Linked DNA regions of Homo sapiens: region 1 is linked to region 2. Evidence: fine-mapped expression QTL. A gene starts in region 2. The other region holds a variant in brackets. All regions are shown on one strand. Distances are between the middles of the regions.

Evidence for each region. PIP is the estimated chance that this variant, and not a neighbour inherited with it, causes the effect. A credible set is the group of variants that fine-mapping cannot tell apart.
Region 1: its variant is the best candidate, but not a certain one, in a credible set for the expression of OSBPL10 in lung (TOPMed, PIP 0.79).

The regions. Positions count from the first base shown.
Region 1 is chr3:31,870,390-31,873,301 of GRCh38, reverse strand. All of the region lies in intron 3 of OSBPL10 (oxysterol binding protein like 10), which reads left to right. Among named protein-coding and RNA genes, the nearest start is that of OSBPL10, 110 kb to the left of the region's middle. The variant C/G (reference allele first, on the strand shown) is at 1,495.
Region 2 is chr3:31,979,815-31,982,726 of GRCh38, reverse strand. It overlaps OSBPL10 (oxysterol binding protein like 10), which reads left to right and starts at 1,465. Exons shown (of 12, transcript NM_017784.5): 1 at 1,465-1,828. The coding sequence starts at 1,548. ZNF860 (zinc finger protein 860) reads right to left here and starts at 977. Exons shown (of 2, transcript NM_001137674.3): 1 at 825-977. RefSeq lists a silencer at 1,706-1,775.

The DNA of each region.
Region 1 (2,912 bases), 110 kb after region 2:
GTTGCTTTGCTTTTGGATGGTTAAAATATTCTTCCTTTTTATCGTAGAATATGGTAGAATATTGATTGCATTTTTTTTAAATTGAGGTTTATTAGAGTATAATTTGCATACAATAAAATTTAACTCCTTTTAAGTGTAAAGTTCACTGAGTTTTGACAAATATATAGAGTCGAGTAACCACCACTGTACTCACAATTCCGCCCTGCCAGCAGGTTCCCTCGTTACCCCCTTTATGATCAATCTCCTCGCTGACCCCTCTGCAACTGGCAACTGCTGATTGGTTTCCTATTTATAGTTCTGCTTTTTCTAGAATGTTCTATAGGTAGAATTATATGGCCTTTCACAACAGACTTCTGTTACTTACAAAAAAGTTTTTGAGGCTGGATGTGGTGGCTCACGCCTGTAATCCCAGCACTTTGGGAGGCTGAGGCAGGCAGATTGCTCGAGTCTGGGAGTTCGAGACCAGCCTGGGCAACATGGCGAAACCCTGTCTCCAAAAAAATATGAAAAAAATTAGCTGGGCATGGTGGTGCACACCTGTAGTCTCAGCTTCTCAGGAGACTGAGGTGGGAGGATTGCTTGAGCCCAGGAGACAGAGGTTACATCAAACTGAGATTGCACCACTGTACTCCAGCCTGGGTGACAGAGTGAGATCATGTCTCAAAAAAAAAAAAAAAAAGCTTTTGAATTTCATCCATGCTGTTGTGTGTATCAGTAGTTGATTCTGTCTTTACATTTTAGCTATTTTAGTGGAATTATGGTACTTTTTGTTCTTAATATTCTTACTTGGAAAAATTGAAAGTGTGAATAACCCTAAATCAATTCCCAGACTTAAAAAAAAAAAAAAAACAACAACAAAAACAAAACACGTATTGGCTTTTGAAATCCAGAGGTCTGGCTATCTCGCCCAGCCTCCATTGGTTTGTACACAAAGAAGCCCCAACCAGGAGGCTGTGGTGCTAAGACTGGAACCTGGGTCTCCTGCTTTCTTGTCCTTGCTCTGACATCTAGCCTCACAGATGTCAGCTAGGGCCACCATGTGCTTCCCTCTGTGGGTGGTGGGGTCCCTTCTAGGAAAGTTTCTGATTCTGCATGGACAGAAACTGACAAACAGACAAAATCTCCCTTTTCTCCATGTCACATAGGTTCATCCTGTGGTTTCCGGTGTTACTTGAGGTGGAGTCACCGGGGTATGGGATTGGTCTGCCAGGAAGAATAGAACACAGACTTCCCCTGAAAACACAAACAACAAAAGAAAACATTCGGCCTTTAGTGCATTATAAAAATTAAAGCAGCATTGATGGAGAAAGTGTTGAGAGAGAGTCATAAAGCCATTCTTATGAGAATCTACTTGTGTATGACTTTGAAGGTCTTAAATGCAAGAAATGCAAGAGTGAATTTCTTGCATGTGTGTGCGTGTGCATGTGTGTGTGTGTGTTTTGAGACAGGGTCTCATTCTGTTGCTCAAGCTGGCATGCAGTGGTGCAATCAGTG[C/G]TACAGCCTTGACCTCCCAGGCTCTCAATCCATCCTCCCACCTTAGCCTCCTGAGCAGCTGGGGCCACAGGCACACACCATCATCCCCGGCTAATTTTTTGTAGAAACAGGGTTTCTCCACATAGCCCAGGCTGTTCTCCAACTCATGGGCTCAAGCGATCCTCCTGCCTTGCCCTCCCAAAGTGCTGGGATTATAGGCATGAGCCACTGAGCCTGGCTTCTTGTAGTTTTTATCAAGTGGGTGGTCTTAGGAAACTTCTAGGATAGGAAAAGTGGTGTTACAGTGTGTCCGGAATTGGTGGGTTCTTGGTCTCACTGACTTCAAGAATGAAGCCGTGGACCCTTGCGGTGAGTGTTACAGCTTTTAAGGTGGCCTGTCTGGAGTTTTTTCCTTCTGATGTTTGGATGTGTTCGGAGTTTCTTCCTTCTGGTGGGTTCATAGTCTCGCTGGCTCAGGAGGGAAGCTGCAGTCCTTCGTAGTGAGTGTTACAGCTCTTAAGGCGGCGCATCTGGAGTTGTTCCTTCCTCCCGGTGGGCTCATGGTCTCGCTGGCTTCAGGAGTGAAGCTGCAGATCTTAGGGGTGAGTGTTACAGCTCATAAAAGCAGTGTGGACCCAAAGAGTGAGCAGTAGCAAGATTTATTGCAAAGAGCGAAAGAACAAACCTTCTACAGTGCAGAAGGGGACGGGAACGGGTTGCCACTGCTGGTTTGGGCAGCCTGCTTTTATTCTCTTATCTGGCCCCACCCACGTCCTGCTGATTGGTAGAGCTGAGTGGTCTGTTTTGACAGGGCGCTGATTGGTGCGTTTACAATCCCTGAGCTAGACACAAAGGTTCTCCACCTCCCCATCAGATTAGTTAGATACAGAGTATAGACACACAGGTTCTCCAAGGCCTCACCAGAGCAGCTAGATACAGAGTGTCGATTGGTGTACTCACAAACCCTGAGCTAGACACAGGGTGCTGATTGGTGTGTTTACAAACCTTGAGCTAGATACAGAGTGCTGATTGGTGTATTTACAATCCCTGAGCTAGACATAAAGGTTCTCCAAGGCCCCACCAGAGCAGCTAGAATACAGAGTGTGGATTGGTGCACTCACAAACCCTGAGGTAGACACAGGGTGCTGATTGGTGTGTTTACAAACCTTGAACGAGATACAGAGTGCCAATTGGTGTATTTACAATCCCTGCGCTAGACATAAAGGTTCTCCAAGGCCCCACCAGACTCAGAAGCCCAGCTGGCTTCACCCAGTGGATCCCGCACCGGGGCTGCAGGTGGAGCTGCCTGCCAGTCCTGCGCCATGCATTCGCACTCCTCAGCCCTTGGGTGGTTGATAGGACTGGGTGCTATGGAGTAGGGGGCGGCGCTCGTCGGGGAGGCTCGGGCCGCACAGGAGCCCATGGAGGGGTGGGAGGCT
Region 2 (2,912 bases):
GGTCATAGGTTAGAATTCAGCTCTGAATGGCTTCAAATTTGGTCCAGGCAAGCTCTTTTCAGATTTTTTTTTTTTTAACACTATGTAGGCACCTGGAATTGTAATTTACTCAGGGGCACAACCACTTCTCTTCAACTCCAGAAGCTTCTCCGTGCATCTCTAGAGCTAAACCACCCATGAAATCTTCCTGGAAGGATGTGAAGCTAGAAAGGGGTTGGGCTCGGGGAACTGTCCCTTTGAGAGCTGACTTTTCCATTTAGTAATTTTTTTTAACTCTTGAAGTATTTATCTGCTTGATGGGTTTGTAGATCCTTTGGACGGAGATCACCTATCATCTATCACCTTTTGTTTTGTCTGTGTGTGTGTGAGAGAGAGAGTCTGAGTTCCTCAAAGCTTTTTTCTAGGTAATTTTTGATACTTCAGATTACAATGGATATCTATATTCACAAAAAATATTAGTGGGATAGAAAGAGTATCTTTAGGTAGGAAGAGGGGCGCAGAAGTTACAGCCAACACAGAGAATCCTTCAATGTTTGTAAATATCTGTTAATTTCCCTTGCCTCTGGAGCAGTTTTCCCGGTTTCAGAGCCTCTGCTCCTAGGTGCACGTGCAGTGTGGTAGCAATGGATAGGTTTTGACTTGCCAGGTTTATGCGTGCCATTCAGGGCAGGGGATTAGGGTTAGGCCAGTGAGTGACCTAGGACACTCAATTTAAGGAAGCACTCGCACAAACCTGAGAGTTCGCGCGCCTCACCCCAGCCCAGCCGTGTGTCTGTTAAGCATTTATCATAATCCTGCTGCATGAAAATGCCCGGCGAGCTTACCTGTGAGGATCACCTGCCACTCCCCTCCTCCGCCAGACAACGCGGAGGGCCTCCCTGAGCTGTGACTTTGCTCCGCCGGTGATAATTTCCAGGTTACTGTGTAGGAGCGTCTGGCGCAGCATCGTGTGCGGAAGACCGAGAGAGGGAGTGTGCGTGTGAGCCTGTCAGGCCGGGCGGGTCCATATCCGGGTGGACCGGGTGGGTGGGGCTGCCCCTCCCTCCAGGTCCCGAGGTGGATAAGGGGTGGGGAGTGACGTGCAGAGATTCCCTTTCGCCCCTTCGGATCCAAGAGAGGGTGGCAGAAGGAATGCGTGGGTGACTTGGCGTGGATTTAGGGCGTGCCCACCCTGCAGATCGGCCTCCTAGAGTGTCCCGAGGGCCTGAGAGGCCGCAGGGACACGAAGGAAGAGAAGGAGGAACCCGAAGAGGGCTCGCCTAGCCGGCCACCCGCTCCGAACTTGCCCGGGAAACTAGTGCGGAGGGAGGGGCCGGGCCCTGGCCGCGGCGGGAGGAGGGGCGGCCGCAGCTGCATCCAGCCCCGTTGGCTTCCTTCCCAGCTCTCCTTCGCCTCCTCCTCCTCTTCCTCCTGTATGAGTCAGGCATTTCCCGGGGATTTGGAGCAGGCACGCGCGGCCCGGGCGTCCGGAGCTGTAGCAGCAGCAGCAGCCGCCGTGCCGGGGCCGCCACCGCGGCGGGCACCCGCGTCCCGGGCGCCCACGGACCATGGAGAGGGCAGTCCAGGGCACAGACGGCGGCGGGGGTAGCAACAGCAGCAGCCGCAGCAGCAGCCGTGCTACCTCGGCGGGCTCCTCGCCCTCCTGCTCTCTGGCGGGCCGGGGGGTCTCCAGCCGGTCGGCGGCGGCCGGGCTCGGCGGCGGGGGAAGCCGCAGCAGCCCGGGCTCTGTGGCCGCTAGCCCGTCCGGGGGAGGCGGCCGCAGGAGGGAGCCGGCGCTCGAGGGCGTGCTCAGCAAATACACCAACCTCCTCCAGGGCTGGCAGAACAGGTAACGCGCCAGCCGCCCGCGCCACCGCGCGCCGCTGTGTGTGTGTGTGTGTGTGTGCGTGCGTGTGTGTATGTGTGTCTGTGTATGTGTGTGCGCGCGCGATTGTGCCTTCAGCGAACCCAGTGATGCCTCCCAACGGTGCCCTTCCTGCGTCCCTGCTCCCCTCCAGGTGGGGTTCTCAGGATGGGGCGCGCCGTGGCTCCACCCCGGGACCGCACCGCAGTGGCGGGGAGGGAGGCGAGAGCCCTGGTTTTCTTCTATGCTGGCACCTGCAGAGACTGGAGTGGTGGCAGGAGGATCGTGCTGGTCCCCGTGCTCTGCTTGTCCGCGGTTTCCCGCACGCCTGAAGAATGACTGGGAAAGGGAGGCAGAAGGGGCGTGCTTTGTGCCGGGGTGAAAAAGCGTTAGCACGTCCGCTCCGATTACAGTAATTCTCTAAGTAACAGTTCATTTTAAAGTTTGGTGTTTCAGAACACCACCACCATCAACAAAAAACCTGCCACTTGTCATCCTGGGCGACTGTGCATACTCCTGCCCCAGTTTGTGCCTTGCAGCCTCCGATGTTTGTAATGGAAGTTTTGTTTAAAAACAGAAAGAGGCCGGGCGCGGTGGCTCACCTCTGTAATCCCAGTACTTTGGGAGGCCGAGGCGGGCAGATCACGAAGTCAGGAGTTCGAGACCAGCCTCGCCAACATGGTGAAAACCCGTCTCTACTAAAAACAAAAAAAATTAGCCGGGCGTGGCGGCGCGCCTGTAATTCCAGCTACTCCGGAGGCTGAGGCAGGAGAATCGCTTGAACCCCGGAGGCAGAGGTTGCAGTGAGCCGAGATCGCGCCATTGCAATCTAGCCGGGGCGACAGTGCGAGACTCCGACTCAAAAAAAATAAATAAATAAAATAAAATAAAATAAAATAATAAAAAGAAAGAAAAAATACCCTCCCCCTTTTAATATTAGTAGCAATTTACATTATTATCATTATTTCCTCTTCAGGTCCCATTTGAAGTTTCCTGCTCACTTCCCCCTTGCAGTTGAGAAGCCTAGTTATGGACACGTGGAAGGATGGGGCTGTCGAGGAAAGGGGCT